Linked DNA regions of Homo sapiens: region 1 is linked to region 2. The links come from fine-mapping of genetic effects on gene expression. Tissue or cell type: whole blood. Region 2 holds a variant in brackets; the other region holds the start of a gene. All regions are shown on one strand. Distances are between the middles of the regions.

Evidence for each region. PIP is the estimated chance that this variant, and not a neighbour inherited with it, causes the effect.
Region 1: TRABD2A starts here. The variant in region 2 is fine-mapped to the expression of TRABD2A in whole blood (TOPMed, PIP 0.98).

The regions. Positions count from the first base shown.
Region 1 is chr2:84,876,239-84,886,977 of GRCh38, forward strand. It overlaps TRABD2A (TraB domain containing 2A), which reads right to left and starts at 4,846. Exons shown (of 7, transcript NM_001277053.2): 1 at 4,694-4,846. The coding sequence starts at 4,801. RefSeq lists enhancers at 4,088-4,590, 4,591-5,091 and a silencer at 4,821-4,950.
Region 2 is chr2:84,832,654-84,843,392 of GRCh38, forward strand. It overlaps TRABD2A (TraB domain containing 2A), which reads right to left. Exons shown (of 7, transcript NM_001277053.2): 3 at 9,208-9,354; 4 at 6,496-6,670. Among named protein-coding and RNA genes, the nearest start is that of TRABD2A, 43 kb to the right of the region's middle. The variant T/C (reference allele first, on the strand shown) is at 5,856.

The sequences.
Region 1 (10,739 bases), 44 kb after region 2:
CACCATGTAGATGTTCTTTAAAGCCATGGGACTAGACAAGGTCTCCAACAGGATGTCCACAGGAGAAAAGTTCTAGGAATAGACTCAGGGCCCTCTCACCCTAAGAAGTCTGGGGAAAGAAGAGCAGCTAGCAAGGGAGAATGAGAAGTGGCCAGCAAGGTTGCTGGGAAAATCAGAAGAGTAGGAGGCCGATTGAAGAAAGTACTTCAAGGAGCAGAAAGTAAGCAAGCGGGTTAAATGTGGATGGTAGGCCAAATAAATCAAGAATTTGAGAACTGACCTCTGGATTGAGCAACACTGAAGTCACTAGGGACTCAGACAAGAACAGTTTTAGTGGTGTGGTGGGAGCAAAAATATGCCCCATGCTAAGTGGTGGACAGGTAGGCTGACTCCTGAGTCCAAGCTTTTAAACGCCATATTTATGCAGCCTTAACATGCAATAGACTTTACCTCTGATTCAGAGTCATATCTTTTTTCAGTTAATACCCTGCTAGTTGTATTGTTGCTGAGGAGCACCACCTGATTCCAAATCTAGAAAGGCTCTGTCCAGCTCATCTTCCCGATCCCAGATGATTGCCCAGATAAACCACACTGACCTTGTTACATCCTCAGGTGCCACCTTTCCCATTTTCTCTTTTCAAGTTAACACAGCTCAGGGGCTTTTCTGCTTTTTTATGCCAAGGGCTGTATCTTATTCACCTTCATATCCCCAAATACTGAAATACTTGCCATATACTACTACATAGGAGCTCAAAAAGAGTTTTTTAAAGAAATGAATCTTATCTTGTACAATTTCTTCAATACCTACAGATCTGTTCTGACCAAAGGGCACCCGGATTCCCACTGTGTGCACCAATAACCATTCCTGTGGAACACTGATCCTGCCCTACCAGACATGTCTTCAGCAGGGCACAGGCTGAAAGAAGAGTCTTCAGGACTCTTCTTTACCTTACTTTGCCCACTGGCGAGCCCCCGGACCCTTGCACTTACTGTACTGGTGCAACTGCCTCTGCCTCTCTCATACTGATATCCTCAGGGTAGGGCTATTTATCTCTACAAAAAAAAAAAATCCTTCACTACCCCATTTCACTGTTAAAATATATGGCAATTAGAAGAAGCCATAGATTTTAACATTAGGGTGGTTTAAAAGAAAAAAAAACTGAACCACGATTAACATGTCCCTTCTAACTTGTTGCAACTGTTCCCAGAAGGAAAAGACAACCGGGCATGGTGGCTCATGCCTGTAATCCCAAGACTTTGGGAAGCTGAGGCAGGAGGACCATTTGAGGCCTGGAGTTGAAGGTTACAATGAGCTATGATCACGACACTGCCCTCCATCCTGGGTGACAGAGCAGGACTGTGTCTCAAAAAAGAAAAAAGAGAGAGAGAAAACATGGCCATGGGTGACTGAGACACAGAAGCTACAAGCTTCTGAATCAAACTGAGATTTTAACAGACACCTGTGTAGTCCATCCAGTGAAAAAGAACAAGGCACAATGACAACTGCATATTGCAAGCTAACTCCGTAACACCCAGCACACCCTCAGCTCCTCCCATCCTAGCATCCCTGGACCTGCAATAACTGCACTTTTCCAAGATTACTCTTCAGCAGACCAGCCACAATGAAGCTGGCTTTACATTATCCTTTTCATTCAACAAATATTTTTTGAGCATCTGCTATGGCAAGGCACTCTTCTGGATACTGGGGATGCAGAAGCAAACAAAACAGACAAAAATCCCTACCCTTATGAAGATGACATAGGGGAAGGGGCAGCAATAAACAAAAATTTTTATCAGATGGTGATTAAGTGCTATAAATAAAAATAAAGCAGGGAAGGCAGATGGTAGTGGTGGCAGCAGTTGATGTCACCTTTACGAGAGTAATCAGGAAGAAACTCATTGAGAGACGCTTGAGCCAAAGCCAGATGGAGGTAAGGGAGCAAGCCTGTGGATAAATGAGGGGAGAATTTCCCAGGGGGAAGAAAGAGCAAGTATAAAAGGCATCAGGCTGGACACGGTGGCTCACGCCTATAATCCCAGCACTTTGGGAGGCTGAGGCGGGTGGATCATGAGGTCAGGAGTTCGAGACCAGCCTGCTCAAGATAGTGGAACCCCATCTCTACTAAAAATACAAAAATTAGCCGGGCTTGGTGGTGGGCGCCTGTAATCCCAGCTGCTCAGGAGGCTGAGGCAGGAGAATCACTTGAACCCTGGAGGCAGAGGTTGCAGTGAGCCAATGTAGCATCACTGCACTCTAGCCTGGGTGACAGATAGAGCAAGACTCTGTCTCAAAAAAAAAAAAAAGGCAGCAGGCAGGAATAGGAAAGAACACTAAGAGTTCTGTTTGACAAGAAAGAGACTCAACCTGCGTGGTGCTCAGGGTAAACCCTGCAGTGTCTAGGGGCCAATTTGGGCTCAGAAGACCTCTCTAATGATTAACCAACCATGAAAACCAAACCAGCTCTCAAGGCTACAGTCCTGCAGAATCCTATAGGGGCTGCTGCACTGGATTGGAGGCTGGATCCCAGGACTTCCACTCTAGAATCTCAAGACCCCAACCCACTGAGGAACCCAACCACAATGCCCTTACAGCATGTGGGTCAGACATACAGCATGTGTGCCGCTGATTGGCCTTCCCAATTCCGCAGGGGGTAAGACAGAGTTTGCCCACAGAATAGAACAGCAATTCTCAAAGTATGGTCCAGGGACCTGTGGGTGTCCCCAAGAGCCTTTCAGGGAGTCTATAAGGTCAAAACTGTTTTTATAAAACTAAGATATTTTCCTTTCACCCTCATTTTCTCACAAGGTACTGTAGAATTTTCTGGAGGCTACATGTGTGTGATGAGGTCACTGCTCTGATGGCTAATGGAATGTGTGCTATGTTGTGTTTTACTACTATCTCCATTAATTCACATAAAGTAAAAGTCTTTGAGGTTTTCAATACTTTTTTTTTTTTTTTTTTGGATATAGGGTCTCGCTCTTTCACCCAAGCTGGAGTGCAGTGGCACAATCACACCTCACTGGCCTCCACTCCCAGGCTCAAGGTTTCCTTCCACCTCAGTCTCTGGAGTAGCTGGGACTGCAGGCACATGTCCCCACGCTGGTAATTTTTTTTATTTTTTTGTAGAGACAAGGGTCTCGCCATGTTGGCCAGGCTGGTCTGCAACTCCTGGGCTCAAGTGATCCACCGCCTTGGCCTCCCAAAGTGCTGGGATTACAGGAGTGAGCTACCATGCCGGGCTTCTTTGATAATTTTTTGTAACGTAAAGGAGTCCTGAGACCAAAAGGTAGGACGATGGAATAAAGGACTCATAAAGACAGATTCTAAAGGAGAGAGATCTTATCCAGACTCACTCGTCATAATTACCAGTCGGTAATAGGTTTTGCAGAAGTGAAAGGCAATGTGCTTTCTTGTGAGGAGATGGACTCCTGCCTTGTCTAACAAGCATGAAGCGGCCACACCGCAACAGAGTTTGAAACCATGCCTGGTGCAGACTCCCCTCTCCAGCTGCCGCGCCTCCTGCCTTGGTAGAGGGCCGTCCGCAGCCCCGCGACGCCTTACAGAGGCGAACACCGTGCGTCTTCCCAGCCCGGAGCTCCAGGATCGGCTCTATTTGGCCGTCCTCTGCTTTGCTGCAGTTGGGATGAGGAATAAAATTGCGAATGGCCAGGGGTGGAGGCAGACCGGGGAGCTGCGCAGGTGTCATCAAAGGTGGGCCTCTAAATTCCAGCCCCCACTCCCTCAACCCACCCCCAACCCCCCCCACCCCCGCGTCGCGGGCGCACCAGAAGGATAAGCCTGGCATGGCCCTCTCCAGAGCCAGGGACGCACAGATATCAAACCCACCGGAACAAATGCGCGAAATTCAACCTATGCCGCACTCAGAAGAGAGGGACTCGAGAACCACAGAAAATTCTGAGTGTAGGAAAACTGATCAGAGAAGGAAATATTCATCTCGAAAGAGGTCCAGCCTCGGAGACGCAAGACCTGTCCGCTATAGAGCTGTGTTGACTCGGGCAGGTCACTGAGCCTCCCTTGCCTGGGTTTCCCTCACCCACAAAACGTTGATGCGAACATCTAAAGCGCCCGGCTGGACACGCAAGGCTCGGACAGTGGTCACTCCGCGAACGCACTCTGTGACCTGGAGCACACAGGTCCCCCGCTGAGTGTCAGTTTCCCAGATCGGTAAAAACAAGGGAAATGGCTTCAACTCCCTAAAGTCCCTTCTAACTCAGGCACTGAACATATGAAGGTTAAGCCAAGCAGCTTCAGGGCGCTGTTAATATTTTGATAAGAGCAGGTGAAATTAAACTCTTAAGGAAGAGAGGGAAGAAGAAACTTCAAATAAATGTGCCCAAGTTCCTGGTCCGGTACTCCCTGGCGGATCCGTCCCCCGAAAGCTCGCGAAAATGGCTGGCGAGACCCCAGAGGCTCTCTCGGACGCCCTTGGGCTGGCGGAGGGCAAAGGCCAGGGCACTGAGTCGCTTGGAGCCTGCGGGCTGCGCCCCCGCGGGAAAGGGGAACCCGAGGGCACGGAGAGGAGAGCGAGCAAGGAGCGCCGCGGTGCTAGGTGAAAGCCCAGCCGCGGAAGTCGGCTCGGGGTCCGAAAGCGCTGCTTCGCGGGGTTCGGAGGGAAACCATCCCAAGGAGGTGCAGAGAGGCCGGCTCTCCAGCACCCGACGCGCGCCTTACTTGGGGCTTGAGCTCGCAGTTGGCGGTGCCGGGCGCCCCGCGCCGCGAAGCTGCGCCCGTGGGCAGGAGGCAGAGGGTCTGCAGCAGGAACCAGCTCCAGGGACTCATCCTCCTCAAGGCGGCTCCGAGGCCCGGAACGCGGAGGGAAGGAGTAGGGCAGAGGTGGCCGCCCGCCCTGGCTAGCCGGGGCCGCGGGGCGCCTCCGGGCGGGGCTGGGGTGAGCCCGGCAGCAGCGGCCACGTGGGGCCGGGCCTCGACCTCCCTCCCCCCACCCCACCCCCGCAGGTCAGCCCCGCGCCTAGGCGGCAGCGGAGTCCCGAACCGCGTTTCTCCCGCCCAAACCCTGCCGGGGCCGCCGCCCACCTCGTGTGACCGCAAGAGGGGTAAAGTGAAGTTCCAGCGCTGTCCTAAATTCAACCTAAAATCGCATTGGTTCCTGCGTTTACGTCTGTGCTTATGCTGCCGATTGTGAGGGGAGGGTGCCTCTTGATTGAAAGAGGCAGACAAAATAAACAAATGAAAGGCTATCTATAAAGGAAAGTTCATTTAAACAAAGGAAATCTCACGGAAGTTTTGAATGTAAAAGAGAGAGGGGAATGGTCAGTGTGTGCATCCACTGAAAATCCAGGACCACAAAAGCTGGCACTCCATTAAGAGCCCTCTTAATGGATTTTTAGGAATAATATTAAGGATGTTAACACCGAACTCAGAGGATTGCCGCAAGGATTAAAAGAGGAAATTTATGAGAAACACCTTGATTGGCACACATAGCAAGCCTGCAAACTGCAGTCGCTCCCTTTCGGCTCCAAAACCCCACTGAGGATTTTTCACAGCATTGGTCCATCAGGAAGAAAAAAAAATTATGAAAGCAAGTAGCTGTGCCCCGCCTGCCGCACCTCCTACCCATGCCTGAGCGCACTTTACCACCACCTTTTAAAGTCCAGACGTCTGCGCCATTAACTTCGGAGTGGTGTTCGCAGGAGCATTTGTCGCAGTGGTCTTTAATTGCTTTAAGTCGCTGTCCATTTTGAGAATCTGATAACTGGACGATCTCCCAGGGAAAAAGAAAAGGGGGGGGGCAGATTTGCATACAATGCGGGGAGAGGTTTTCTGAAGCCCATTTCCAACTTTCCCGTAAAGAACCCCTGGCTTTGAAGAGCCAAGTCTTTCGAGATTTAACTCCACCAACATTTAGAGTTCAGATGTTTTTGTAAAATCGCTTTTTTCTAAGTTTGAGTGGGGATTTGCTTTCTGGAATTGACTGTCTCCTGTCTTCAGATGACTGCCCCGTGTCAGCCCGGCGGCAATCGTTAGTCTCCGGGCCAACCCAGGACGATGCTTTTTGGCGTTTTCAGGCACCAGCGCTGCCACCTGCTGGCAAAAACTTTCTCTTTCGGTTGTGAGGGGGAAAAGCAAAAAGCATCAAGAACGTAAGTTGCCCTGAGCTAAGATCGAACCACTGCACTCCAGCCTGGGCCACAAAGTGAGACCCTGTCTCTTATTTAAAATAAAACAAAACAAAACAAAACAAAAAACTCAAAAGGATGTAATTACCTATTATTTCATGTTATCTCTCCCACTCCAAATGAATCAATCCGTGTGGCCACAGAGAAGCCCGCCCAGCTTCTCTCTGAGCTGGGCTTCTCTCTGGCCACACAAAACATGGCTGAATTTGTTTATTTTCTCCTGTTGTTTGTCTCTCTTTTATTTCGTTGGTTTCTGCTCTTATCTTTGTTATTTCCTTCTGTTTGTTTACTTTTGGGTTTACTTTGCTTTTTTTCTGGATTCTTAAGGTGGTACCTTAAGTCATTGACTTTAAGTCTTCTTGCTTTTGTAATATAAGCATTTAAAGTTATAAATTTCCCTATAAGCACTGCTTTAGCTACATCACCCAAATTTTGAAAAACTGTATTTCATTATCTTTCATTATCTACTTTCCCTGGTGATTTTCTTCTTTGCCCGTGGATTATTTAGAAGTAGGTTGATTGATTTCCAAACTATGGAATTGTCCTAAATATTAGGTTGGTGCAAAAGTAATTGTGGTTTTTGCAATATCAACAGATTTATAATCCAATTCTGTTGTAAACAGAAAACATACTCTGTATGATTTTGATTATTTTGAATTTATTGGGACTTGTTTTATGGCTCAGCATATGGTCAGATACTGAGTATGAAATATCATATCCATATCCAAAGTACCTAGATAATTTTGTTTGATTCTGACAGTTTTTAAATGAAGTGTTTTTTTTGTTGCTGTTGTTGCTTTGTTTCGTTTTGTTTTTTCTCTTAGCCAGACCCATCATCAAGTAGGATTTATTCTGTAAGACACTCAGTGTCCGAATATTCTATAGAATCACATCTACTCTACTTACATGTTTCCACAGACATTCCTAAGTTCACTATCATCCCACAGTGCTGACCCAGACCTGGTGACAGGCTGACATGGCCTGGTCCTCACTTGCCTTATACAGACATCTGGGTTGCAGGCCTTTCTGCCTTTCCCTTCCTGGTTAGGAAGGAGATGTTAAATGTACCCATGTCCTCCTCTCTGCTTATCTGCCGAGTTTCTGTATCAAGTTTAGCTCCTTAACTTCAGCTTTGTTACTGGATCATACCTCTGGCTGCCCATTGCCAGAGCCCTGAATTGCTTCTGAACCTTCCCTGGTCCTTTCTCTTTCCCCTTTCATGTATGGTTGATATCCTTGGCAACCCTCCCATATTAGTCCATTTTGTGCTGCTATAGAAGAATACCACAGACTGGGTCATTTATAAAGAACAGAAATGTATTTCCTTACAGTTCTGGAGGCTGGAAAATCTGAGATCAAGGTGCCTAGCATCTGGCAAGGGCCTCCTTACTGCATCATCCCACTGTGGAAGGTGAGAGCACAAGAGAGTGAGAAAGAGAGAAAAATCGAGATTGAGAGCTAAAGTCATCCTCAAGCCATTCATGAGGTCATGAGGGTAAAGCCCTCCCATGATGTCCCAGCTCCCAACACTGTTGCATTAGGGATTAAGTTTCCAACATATGCTTTTGGAGGACACCTTCAAAGTATAGCATCCGCTTAGGTCCATCTACTCTTAAGTGCTTCTTTTGTGCCCCTAGTAATGACTTTCTGAATTTACACAAACCTGTGAGGCTTGTCCCCTTCATAGCAGTACCTGAGAAAATTATACTGCTGATACCTTTTTGCTCTTTCCCCAAAATCAGATTTACCCTCAAAAATAAAGTTTTCAGAGTATGCAGAGGATTTGCTATGGCTTCAGCAACACTCTGTGCCTTCACCCTGCCTTTTTCTACCTGGCTTGGCTGACCTGCAGTCATCCACAGATTTCCAGAGGTGATCGGGACATCAGAGGTGTGGTGGCAGTTCCCCTTGATTCTGCCTCCTGATATTCACACTTATGTTTCATACCCTGTCCTTTATTGTAACCAGAACCTGAGACTTGCTTCTAACAATGAAATACGGCAAAGGTCATGGGCAGTGCTGTGATTACTTGTACATGACTACATAAACATGTACTGCTAGTCTTGCTAAAGTCTCTCTCTCCATTGCTATCTTTCCCAGCCTCCAGAACTGTAAGGAAATGCATTCTGTTACTTATAAATGACCCAGTCTGTGCTATTCTTCTATAGCAGCACAAAATGGACTAATATGGGAGAGTTGCCAAGAATATCAACCATACATGAAAGGGGAAAGAGAAAGGACTAGGGGAAGGTTCAGAAGCAGTGAAAATCTCTCTCTCCATTGCTAAGCAAGTTGCCATGAGACCTACAGAATTCATGAAGACATGAATTCTGCCAACAACCTAAGAGAGCTCAGGAGCAGATCCCTCTCCAGTTGAGCCTCCAATGAAAATCCAGTCCTAGCCAACAACACCCTGACTGTAGCCTTGTGAGACCCTAAGCAGAGGACTCAATTAAGCTCTGTCTACACTCCTGATCCAAAGCAACTGGGAAAATAAATGTGTGCTGTTTTAAGCCACCAGGTTTGTGGTAATTTGTTGCAGCAGCAATAGATAACTAATACACCAGGGGAAGTGGGATGCTAAGCACATTCCCAGGAGTTCCAGCATGGTGCTCGGCCAGCAGGCTGTGTCCGTCCTCAAGGTGAGCAGTTGAAGACCTAAGTTGATGGAGGTGTGGAAACACCTACTCCCTCCACTGCCAGGTGTGCAGGCTCCGTGCATTCTTGGAAAGGGGCTGAATGTTGCCACACTCCCTCGCCCACCCAGTGTTGGCACAAGAATTTCTAAGTAGGAAAGAGTGGCAAGTATGCCAAAGCTGCATTTGCTTTGCAGCACACTGCTTGTACCAGATTGTGAAAAAGAGAAAACATCCCTGGACAGCTGGGAACTGGTCTGGTTTTATCAGTCAGGCCTTGGTGTTGCTACAAGCTGGCCTGGCACTCACAGCTAAGCCATGGTGTTCTCCTGTTGAACATAAACAACTTCACAGAGCATCAACATCAGACAAGGCCACTCTGTGATGAATGAAGATGAAAGCAAAACCCCTCCATAATCACATCTCAACACAGACAAAACATGAACATTGGCCAAGTCACAAGAAAGGGTGTCCAGTCATCCGCCTCTTCTGACTAAGGAGTGATGGCTGCTCCTTTACCAAGGCCAGTTTTCACCTCCATTCATTTCTCCCACCTCATAGATGAGATACGTTAAGATTCTATTTGGGGATAAATTAAGATCCCCCAAAATTCATACATTAATCCCCTAACCCCTAGTGCTTCAGAATGTGACTGTATTTGAAGATAAAGTCTTTAAATCGATGATTAAGTTAAAATTAGGCTGTAAGGATGGGCCCTAATCCAATCTGACTGGTGTCCTTATAAAAAGAGGAAATTTGTGCCAAGTATGGTGGCTCATACCTGTAATCATAGCACTCTGGGAGGCCAAGGCAGAAAGATGGCTTGAGCCCAGGAGTTCGAGATCAGCTTGGGCAACAAAGGGAGACACTGTCTCTACAAAAAAAAAAAAAAAAAAAATTAGCCTGGCATGGTAGTGCATGAATGAGGTCCCAGCTACTCAGGAGGCTGAGGCTGGAGGATCCCTTGTGCCTGGGAGATCAAGACTGGAGTGAACCATGGTCTCCACTGTACTTCAGCCTGTGCAGCAGAGTGAGGCCCTGTCTCAAAAAAAAAAGAAGAGAACAGCACGGACTGCATACACAGAGGGGCAACCATGTGAGTAACACAGAAAGAAGGCAGTCATCTGCAAGCCAAGGAGCGAGGCCTCGGAGAAGAGACCTGCCAACACTTTGATCTCAGACTTGCAGCATCCAGAACTGTAAGAAAATAAACTTCTGGGCTGGGCACGGTGGCTCACACCTGTAATCCCAGCACTTTAGGAGCCCAAGGCAGGCAGATCACCTGAGGTCAGGAGTTGGAGACCAGCCTGGCCAAAATGGTGAAACCCCGTCTCTACTAAAAATACAAAAATTAGCCAGGTGTGGTGGCATGCACCTGTAATCTCAGCTACTCAGGAGGCTGAGGCAGGAGAATCACTTGAACCCAGCAGGCAGAGGTTATAGTGAGCCGAGATTGCACCACTGCACTCCAGCCTGGGCAACAGAGCAAGGCTCTGTCTCAAAAAAAGAAAAGAAATGTCTGTGTTTAAGCCACCCAGTCTGGGGTATTTTTTATGGCATCCCAAGCTGACTAATACTTGATAGCACCCAACCCAGAGCAAAGCCCCACTTCCTTGAACTCTCCCCCAAATCACCTGACAAGTCCAAATCCTATAACAAGCCCTCCTAACACCTTCTTCCTGATATGCCCTACAATTCCCCAAAATATGAGAAAATTTGGACACACAAAAGACACACATCAAGAGAATTCTCCCTCATCGCAAAGAGCAATAAATCCAACTAATGCAATTTCAAGTGTGTCCCTGGTGGTCTATGGCTGAAGGGCATTGATCATTGTATGTCTACTTAGAGTGACGTTGGCCAGCCCCCATGCCATCCTTGTGCTTCCACTGGTCTCCTGCCCCTCCCCGCCCTGCATATGTGTCACATGGTGACACTATGCTA
Region 2 (10,739 bases):
GCCGGGCATGGTGGCAGGCACCTGTAATCCCAGCTACTTGAGAGGCTGAGGCAGGAGAATCACTTGAACCCGGGAGGCAGAGGTTGCAGTGAGCCGAGATCATGCCACTGCATTCCAGCCTGGGTGACAGAGCAAGACTCTGTCTCAATTAAAAAAAAAAGGAGGGGGGGGAATTCCCAACTACAGGATGGAATGCAATTGTGCTCTCTGAAAAAACAGGGAGGCTGGTGGGACGGAAGGAATGGCTACTTCCCAATCACCACTTTCTAGAAAAAGTAAAGGCAACCTAATCTAAGATCTGTCATTCTTGGAGGTTTCTGCATAGGACAAACCCACTGTAGTCTCAGGAGTCACAACCAGGGAACCCTGGGAGCCTGCGGCAGTACAGCAAATAGGCCCCGAGAAGGAAGCAGAAGGCCCATGGTTCCTGCTTTCATTTTCACCCTCATGCATCAAAGGGGGTGTTCATGGGTCAGCAGGGGCTCAGAAAGGGAAGTTTGGCAAAACCATTCCCTCCCATCCTCCCCTCTCCTCCCCACAGCCTAGACCAGCCTAGACAGCTGCCAGTGCAGGGGCGATAGCTGTAACCTAGAAATGTGGGGTAGGAGAGGAGGCCACTGGAGAAGTAACCCTGGCAAACAGGAGCCAAAAATCAGCATGAGCTGATTTAAGATCGACACCTAAATAAGAAAAAAAGTCATGTCTTTCACCACTGATCCTAGGTTATTCATTTGCAAATAAGGAACTGGCAATTTAGAACAAGTGATTATAGTTTCCACTTAGCACTTCTGACTTCAATTTTTCTTCTACTGCAAAGGTGATTTCCATTTCTAATCTTCGCATTTTATATCCAGATCCCCATGACAAAAGTCGCTGCTTGATTTTAAAACTCCAGTACTTTCCATTTTCAGTTATCCTCATTTTGCAATTAAAAGTTTGCTAACCACACAGCTTTTAAGTTTTAAAAGCACACGGTAATGTGTTTCGGAGCAATTTCTGTAGTTTCCTCTGTTCAACTTAGCCTTCAGAAGGCACAGAGAGAAAGCAGCTACAGGAATATAACTTTGCCTTAGAAGGAGCCAGTGCTAGATGGGGGCTCACAGCCCCTGGGCACTTCGGGCATCAGGAGTGCCCAGGGGCTGTCAGCCCCAATCTAGCCCTGCATCAGTATGACAAATCAAGCCCTGAGTACTGGGCAAGCTCAGGTGTTGGTGTTGCCTGTTCCACCTGCCTGGCAGAACCCCCACCACGAGGGCCCACCCACCGAACTGCTCAGACCAAGCTGTGCCCCAGCCTCCCACCAGCCCAGAACCCAGTCGACCTTTCCCCTCTCCCCAGCGCCCCATTACCCCTGCCACGGGACATACGGGAAGTTTTTGGGAGCTCACCTAAGTCTGGCAGGGGTGGAAAGCAGAAGCCCACACTCCAGCACCTGGGCACCTTCCATCCACACAGACCCGGGGTGGTGCATTGGGACACCACCACTGGCTCTGTTTCCTAACTTTCTCATCTGGGGTCTGCACCACTGTTACGGTGCCTCAAGAGTGAGGCCCAGGCTAACAGCTTTGTTCCAAGAAGCCATTTGTTGAGACAGTACAAATGTGCACACGGTGCCCAATCCAGACATGAAACACAGGACTTACAGAAGAAGAAAACTACCACATACTCACGGGCATTGCTGAGGGCACAAACTGCAGTTTGTTTGTGGCAGAACTTTTCAATGAGCATAATGTGGGAGCCAAACCCCTTATATTTCTATAACAGTTTTATTAATATTTGAATATAATTCACATAACATAAAATTCATCCTTTTAACGTATGCCAGTCGGTGATTTTTTCTGTATATTCAGAAAATCATGCAATCATGACCACTATCTAATTTTAAAACATTTTCATCGTTTTGACCCCAGCCCCTGGCAACCACTAATCTATGAATACTTTCTGTCTCTATAGATTTGCCTGTTCTGGACATTTCATATAAATATAATCATATGATTTTGTGACTGGCTGTTTTCACTTAGCATAATGTTTTCAAAGTTCATCCATGTAGTACCATATATCAGTACCTCTTTCCTTTTTATGGCCAAATAGTATTCCATTTGTGTGTATATATCACCTTTTATTTATCCATGTCAGTTGATGGATAGTTGGATTGGTTCCACTTTTTGGCTATTATAAATAATGCTGCCATGAACATCTGTGTACAAATTTTCGTGTGGACATATGTTTTCAATTCTCCTAGGCATATATCTGGAAGTTGAAATGCTGAATCAAATGGTAGCCCCATGTTTAATTTTTAAAAACTGCTAAACAGTTTTCCAAAATGGCTACACCATTTTAAATTCCCAGTAGCAATGTATGAGGGTGCCAATTTCTCCATGTCTTCACCAAAACTTTTTACTCTCCATCTTTTTTATTATAGCCTAGTGAGTATGAAATGGTATCTTCACTTTAGCACCACAACAATAGGACTCCAGTAAAATAACAGTGGATTATATGTGAAAGTGCAGCAAGACTCAGACTCTATTTAAGAAGGTTCTTAAGAAAGCACAAGACAAAAAATACTAGAGGAAAAACTAGAGGTCACTAGAGGAAACTGAAGCCTCTGGGACCTAGAGTTACAGCAAACATGCCTTAGTCTGTGTTGCTGTTACAAAATACCACAGACTGGGTCATTTATAAGCAATAGAAATTTATTTCTCACAGTTCTAGAGGCTGGGAAGTCCAAAATCTAGGCATAGGCATTCAGTGCCCAGTGAGAGCCTTTTTTTTTTTTAATACAGAGAGTCTTACTCTGTCACACAGGCTGGAGTGCAGTGGCATGTTCACAGCTCACTTCAGCCTCGACCTCCAGGGCTCAAGTGATCCTCCCACCTCAGCTTCCCAAGTAGCTGGGACTACAGGCACACATCACTATGCCTAGCTAAATTTTTATTTAATTTTTGTAGAGATGAGGTCTCACTGTGTTGACCAGGCTGGTCTCAAACTCCTGAGCTCAAGTGATCCTCCTGCCATGGCCTCCCAAGGTGCTGGGATTACAGGCATGCACCACCATGTCCAGCTGAGGGCCTTCTTCCTGAGTCTTTACATGGCAGGAGGGGCTAATGCTATATCTTCACATGGTGGAAGGCACAAGGGCAAAAAAATAGCCTACACTACTTTCCTCCAGTCCTTTTAAAAAGCATGAATCCACTCATGAATGTGGAGCCTTCATGTCTTAATCACTTCCCAAAGGCCCCACCTCTTAATACCATGACAATAATAATTAAGTTTCAACACACAAGTTTTAAGGAACATTCAGACCACAGCAAAACATTAAACAGCCCAACTCTGAGAAAGATTAACATAAACCCTCACACTAAAAACATATTTCCCTCACTTCCCATTGCCAAATACATCATATCCAGCTTTCAATTAAAAATTACAAGTCACACTGGGAGGCAAGAAAAATCACAATCTGAAGAAACAATGAAAGCATCAGACCCAGACTCAGACATGATAGAGATTCTGGAATTATCAGATAGGGAATATAGTTGAACTGAAGAGCATCATCAATCAAATTGATCTAATTGACATTTAAAGAATACTTCATCCAACAACAGCAGAATACAAATTCTATTCAGCTCACATGCAACAGATTTCTCCTTCGTTTTTGATTTTTGCTGGATGTGGAAATGTTTGTTGACAGTCTTTTATTTCAGCATTTTGAGTATGTCTCCCATAGCCTTCTGGCTTGCATGGCTTCTGATGAGAAATCTGCTGTTAATCCTATTGGGGATCCCTTGTCTGCTTTGCTCTCACTGCTTTCAAGATTCTGTGTCTTTGGCTTTTGACAGTTTGGCTATGACACGCCTTGGTGTGAAACTTTTTGATTTTATACAACTTATAGTTCATGGGTTGAATGTGCAGAGTAATATTTTTCATCAAATTTGAGACATTTTCAAGCAATTTTAAATTCAAATATTCTTTTTATTTCTTTCTTTTTTTCTCTCCTGTCTTCTGGGACTCCCGTTAGGTATACATTGGCACACTTGAGGGTGTCTCACAGGTATCTGAAGATCTATTCATTTTTCTTCATTCCTTTTCCTTTCTCTTTCTCATACTGAATCATCTCAATCAACCTATCTTCATGTATGTTGATTCTTCTTCTGCCAGTTCAAATCTACTGTTCAGCCCCCGTAGTGAATTTTTCATTTCAGTTCCTACACTTTAAATTCCAGAATTCCTATTTGGTTCTTTTAAAATAATTTTTATATTTTTATTGATATTCTGTATTGGTGAGATATTGTTCTCAAACTTTCCTTTAATTCTTTAGATATGGTTAATTTTAGGGTTTTTTTTTTTTTTTTTTTTTTTGGAGATGGAGTTTCACTCTTGTGGCCCAGGCTGGAGTACAGTGGTGTGATCTCAGCTTACTGCAACCTCTTCCTCCCAGTTTCAAGCAGTTCTCCTGCTTCAGCCTCCCAAGTAGCTGGGATTACAGGTGTGCGCCACAACGCCTGGCTAATTTTTGTATTATTAGTAGAGATAGGGTTTTGCCATATTGGTCAGGCTGGTCTCAAACTCCTGACCTCAGGTGACCCACCTGCTTCAGCCTCCCAAAGTGCTGGGATTATAGGCGTGAGCCTCCGCACCTGGCCTCTTTTAGTTTTTTGAACATATTTATAATAACTAGTGTTAAAGTCATTTTCTAGTAAGTCCAAGATATTAACTTCCTCAAGGACAGCTTCTATTGGTTGCTTGTTTTTCCCTGGGTATGGGCCATACTTTCTAGTTTTGCTCTGTGTCTTATAATTGTTTTTATTGAAAACTAGACATTTAAATAATATACCAACTCTGGAACTCATCTCCTCTCCCTTAGTCCCAGGTGCATTGTTGTTGCTGTTTGTGTAGTGATTTTCTAGGACTAAGTCTGTAAAGTCTGTATTCTTTGTTGTGTGTGATCACTGAAGGATCTGCTCAGTTAGTTTAGTGGCTGGCTAATGACTGAACAGAGATTTCCTTAAATTCCTTGCAAGTTTCCCAACCTTTGCAGAGGGGCTGTGTGAGTTTGGGGGCATGTATTTGATGCTTCAACAGGCAATTTATGACTTTGCCTTAGCTTTCACACTCTGCTTACACAGAGCCTCAAGATCAGCCAGAGGTGAGAGATTAGGACCTTCTCAGGTCTTTCCTGGGCATGTGCACAGCTCTTCTCATGCATGTGACTCTCTAGGAATATTTTAGAGCTTTTCTATACCCCCTATGGGATTTTGCTTTTAAGTTTTTTGGGCAGCCCCTTGTAAGCTTCAATTAATATTGCTATTTCCAGCAACTATGATGTTAAACAGCTGCTACTGATTGTTTTCAACACACACCCTAAGAATAGGGCTATTCACACAGAGCAAGCTCTGAGTCAGGTCAAATGAAGACAAGCTTGGGAATGGAAATTTCAGGGAACTATTGGACATGTCAAATAGTGATGATTCTTTAAGGATGGAGCTTTGGAGGAACTTTGAACCCATTCTGTCCCCTCCAGTAACCATTAGGCAAACAGTTTTCACAGCTACTGTAGTTCAAGGCTCCTGATTTTCAAGGCTACTGTGAAGCTGGGAAAAGGGAGATAAAAACAGAACAAGTTAAAATGCCACAAAGCCCACTGCTTCTATCAAAATTCATCCAGTTTTCTTAAATAAACACTTCTAGGATTGTTGCAAGCCTTTAATTAATTTCCAGAGCTGTGGAAAAGTTGATTTTGACCATTTTTTCCAGTGTTCTTATTGCTGCTATGGAAGAACAGGTTTTTGGAGGCCCTCACTCCACCATTTCAGAATTGCTTCTCTCCAACCCCCTATCTTACTGGTAAAGAAACTGAG[T/C]GACATGACTTGTTTAAGTTTATGAAGTTAGCAGAAAAATATGAAACAAAGCCCAGCCCAGCAAATGATCTTTCTGCATACTGTCCAGCCTCTGGCATTTCTATCCTCATTTCCTGAGGCTGCAAAGAATTCTGTGTCAGAGTCACTCCGGGGGAGAGAATTTATTTCAAGAAGCCCACAAAAGAAAATAATTGTCCTATTCTGTCTCCATGTGTGCTGCTAACAGTCAATAACAGCTGATGTATCAGCCCCAGGCCTTGGACTTGGGAGGCTCATTGTCAGGTAGAAGAGTAAAGACAAACATATTTGTAGTGAAAGTTTACAAAGTGAAAAGTACCAGAAAGAAGTTGGGATTAAGTATGAAATTCAGAGGACAAAAATGTTTTCCCAGCTGGCTTATGTGTGGAGAGAGCTATGGGTGATGTCACATGCACCAGCTCATCCAGCAACATTTCAACCATGCTGGATGCTCCATCCCCAGCTGGAGCCACTCTGCAACTGAAATAAGTCAAGGAAGGTGTCACTCCCTTCATCTCGCTTCATGACTAACACAGGCCCTAAGCAGGGGCTCACCTCAACATTCCCTTCTTGGGAGAAGCCTCAGATTTCAGAGGCTAATCAGAGGTGACCCACTACTCACCAGCTCCAAAGGCAAAGAAGAAGCCTTTGTCAGGGAACTCCTCCAAAAGGGCCTTCACCCGCTTCCCTATTCTCTCATTCCGCTTGTAGATCAGCTCCCGGCGTAAGTAGCTGTCAATCTCCTGAGCAGTGATGCGCTCCTGAGGTGGTAGCGTGGCATTAATAAAATTGGGAACCTCCACCAAAATAAAGAGAAAAAAAAATAAGGGGCAACAGAGTTATTAACAAAGTTACTTCATTGGAGCATCAAATCCCCCAACCTAGATGGTCAAGACGTTGTCAAGAGAAGAGTGACACCATTCTTGGAGTTTCCTGTCTGCTATGTTTCCCACTCTATCACATTCCCTGTAACCAAAGTGAAAAAAATATTAAGTGAAGTGCATTGAATGAACTCTTACACTATTTACAACTGCACTTCTGTTTTAGTTAAATGGCTCTGTCTGATGCCGTGTGTTTATAAAAAAAAAAAAAGGACACTGTCTTTGCACAGTACATCCATAGTTTTAACTTGTGTGATTCATACATGCTTTTCTTATAAAAATAGTCTTATATAGTTACATATTTTAGATTCTATTACCGAAAACATGAAATTTGTATAAACACTTAAATGTTTTATAAATCCTCTACTTTACATTTTCATTATTTCTCCACTTCCTATTTCTCTCTCTTGCTTTCCCCAATGTTCTTTGCCCTCCTGGCAAATATTTCACTGATTCTGGTATACATGTTAGCCAGTTTCAGTATTTTGGCTAATAACAGGATGAAAGTGCATCAAAATTGTGACAATCAGCGTGGTTCTTGCAGCCCAGGAGCTACAGGTAAGGCTGGCACTCTGTGTTTTCTCCCCACCCCCTCAGCTGTCTGGCTTCCCAAACCTCAGCCTCCCACTCCTCCCCCTGGGTGCATGCTCTCTCCTCCACCCAGGGACTTAACAATGTTACCCATTATCTTGGTCAGTATCTACCCTGCCTGCTGCTGCTGCTTCCAGTAGCCTCTCAAAAAGCTTTCCAAAGTCCTCAGACTCTGTGACAGCATTAACTTCCATCTTATGGATAACAGATCTCCTTTTGCGACGGCCTCGAAATGATATTCTTTCATTTTCAAATCGACAGCCTTCATCTTCTACTCTGTCATCTTTTTTTTTAATCATGTCATTTATGTAAGATCCCCTGCCCATTTCCCAAAATCTCTTCTCTTCAGCAGAGCCCCCCTCTCTACCAGCCTCTCTACAGAGGCAGCGTCAGATACACAGGGTGACCTCCCTCTGACATCCTGCTCCACCTTCTAAATTCCAAACATCACCCAAAGCCTGCACCACTCCCTGCTGGCCAGCCTGGCCCTCACTCACAGTGACAGCACATTCCCTGACCTCCTGTAGGGGCCCTGTGGGCAGAACAGATATGGGAAAGCCACAGGAGAAAAATGCATAAGACATCTGTATTATCTGCTCCATCAGCCTCACCATTTGCCCACGTAATGACCAAATCCTCCGCCCACATTAACTTTTTTCTGCTGCTTCAAATGTCAATTTCCCAATTGATCTTGACTTTTCTCCCCCCTTCCCTACCCTCAGCAAGAGTGCAGGTAAGATTTATCACCACCACCAACTCTATTTTTCCTTCTTTAATGTGTTTCTTGTTCTCCCTTTCCTCCTGCTTCACTTTGTCTCAATTTGACTTTTTTTTCCTCTAGATTTTTGGGGATGCTCCTTACATCTTTTGAGGCTTCTGTCATTAATGAAATGTCACCTTTCTGGGCTGATGCTGCACTCAGCCTGTACTGTCCTTCTCCCCATTGCTGCTATTCCTCCTTCAGCTCTCATGTTCACACATGTCTCCTTATGGTTGGGTCCCCAGATTTAACATAGACCTGTACAGCATCACCCACACCCACTAGCTCCTGTCTCCCCTCTCCAGTGTCTTCATGCATGTGGACACCAGTCCTGGGTGGGGGAAACAACACACTCCCCTACCTCAGAAGTTTAGCTGGTGTTTGCTATTTGCATGTAGTCCTAGAGAGGAGGCGAAGGCACCATGGCTTGTCCCATGGGAAGCCTGTTGATAAAAGCATAACAAAGATCCGTACCACTTCCCTCCTGGAAGGAGACCATGATCTTCTGAGGCTGAGCAGCTACTTCCTTCCACTCAATGGCCCACAGGTAAGGCCTGAGCTGGGCAAACACTCAATCCACCAGCTCAGCCACACTCATCCTGCAATACCACAGGATGCAATGATCCACGTCTGCAAATGCTAGCAGCCTTCCCAGCTCTGATGCCCTAAGCCTGTAAGCATTCTGTGAATACACAGCTATATCATGTTCACATGTTCCTAGAGGCCACTGAAGCTGCAGTCAAAGTTCTGCCCCATCATTTTGCAAAAGTATGACCTAAGTCAGCCAGGAGGCCATCAGACTCAGAACCCTTCCCTTCCTCAAGGCTGGTTCATGTGGCCTACTGTTAAATCCTTTGAAGCTTCATCCTTTGGCTGGAATACTGGAATTAACCCTCATCAATGCCCCTCTCTGTTCTTACAAGGTTTGTAAAGCTTTCATTCGCTGTAGTGCCTCATTCAATGACATCTAAATCTGCCCACTTTATTTCTAGAGCCCTCATGACCTCAATCCTTTGTACACAGGATGTACATGTTGCCAGGTAATGTTTTTATTCCTATAATTAAATGTGTGCTGAGCTTGGCAGGGGGAAAGGGTGCTCACCTGGGAGCTGTCATGGCTGAGGATGACGGAGCTGAGGTCCCCGCAGTTATAGTGTTTGATGAGATCCTCCGTCGTGTAGGGGATCTGAAGACTGCCTGCTCGCAGGCTTTCCTGCTGCAGGAGGGTCTGGTTCAAAGCAAAGATGACCTAAAAGAAAGGTCTCTTTTAAGTTCACTAACAAGGCAACTGTTTGCTGCCATCTTATTTCTTTTGTCCATGGCTGGAAATACCTTCACCTTTGTGCTCGTTATGTAAGGACGTGGATAGTGCTACTTAAAAAAGGGAACACAAATCCCTGGACAGCATCCAAAGAAAAGGAGAACAGTCCTTCCCAAATCAGCCCCAATCAGACACACCTAGGGAACTGCCTTATGGAGGACACAGACAACCTGGAACTCTTCCATGAGTGTGACCAAGAGGTGAGGGAACCCAAGAGCTGGCTTGTGAGGAATAGAAGCTAGGAGGTGGGGCAGCGAGAGGGCTGGGGACTCACAGACACACCTACCAGTGGGTCCCAATTATGTAAAGGACTGGGCAGAAACCAGTGCATTATCCACATCTTTTCTAACCATCAATGCAGCATTCCCAGCTAATGGCGTCATTAGATCCATGGGATATTAAGGGAAGTTAATGTGAAAAAATGGGAAATGAAGGCTAAAGAAAATTAAACACCAGCCTGGCCAACATGGTGAAACATGTCTCTACTAAAAATACAAAAATTAGCTGGGCATGGTGGCATGTGCCTCTAGTCCCAGCTACTTGGGAGGCTAAGGCTAGAGAATCGTTTGAACCCAGGAGACAGAGGTTGCAGTAAGCCAAGATTGTGCCATTGTACTCCAGGCTGGATGACAGTGAGACTCTGTCTCAAAAAAAAAAAAAAGAAAAGAAAAGAAAATTAAACAGGTTTTAATTTTACAGAACTTCTCAGAGTCTTTAATATACTAATGTGCGATGTGGGTCTCCTTGATGGGGAACAGAGTATGCCAGGTTTCCCAAACATATTTGAGGCATACATCACAAGAGAAAGCTTTGTTGAAACATATTTTGGGAAAATCCAGATTCAAGATCCTGATGCCAGGAACCCTATCTCTCCAGCTCTGACCCAGATCTCCAGTGTCCAGGAGAATTCATTTTACAAAGCAGGGAATTCTCCTGGGCACTGGAGAGCTGGGTCAGAGGTGGGGAGGTAGGGTTCCTGGTATCAGGTGGGTAGTGGGGCTGGCCACCCCCTACGAGGCTCCAGACAACACTTACAACCCGTGGAATTTTCTCTCTCACTTTCCCCAGGTACAGATGCAGCTCTATAGCCTCTGACAGCTCCCCTTTCTTGTGCTTCCCCAGTAATCAGCATACAGGATGCTGCCTTTGCTGGAATATCTCCTCACTCTTTGCTGCAATACAGACAGGCTTGGTCCATCTGTGTTGCAGCAAAGACTGACTATGAGGTCTTTAGCAAGATGTTTCAACTCTCCAGAGACAACGCATTAGAGGTCTTAAGTCAGCAAATGACCCTACCCAGCCCCAACCCCTTT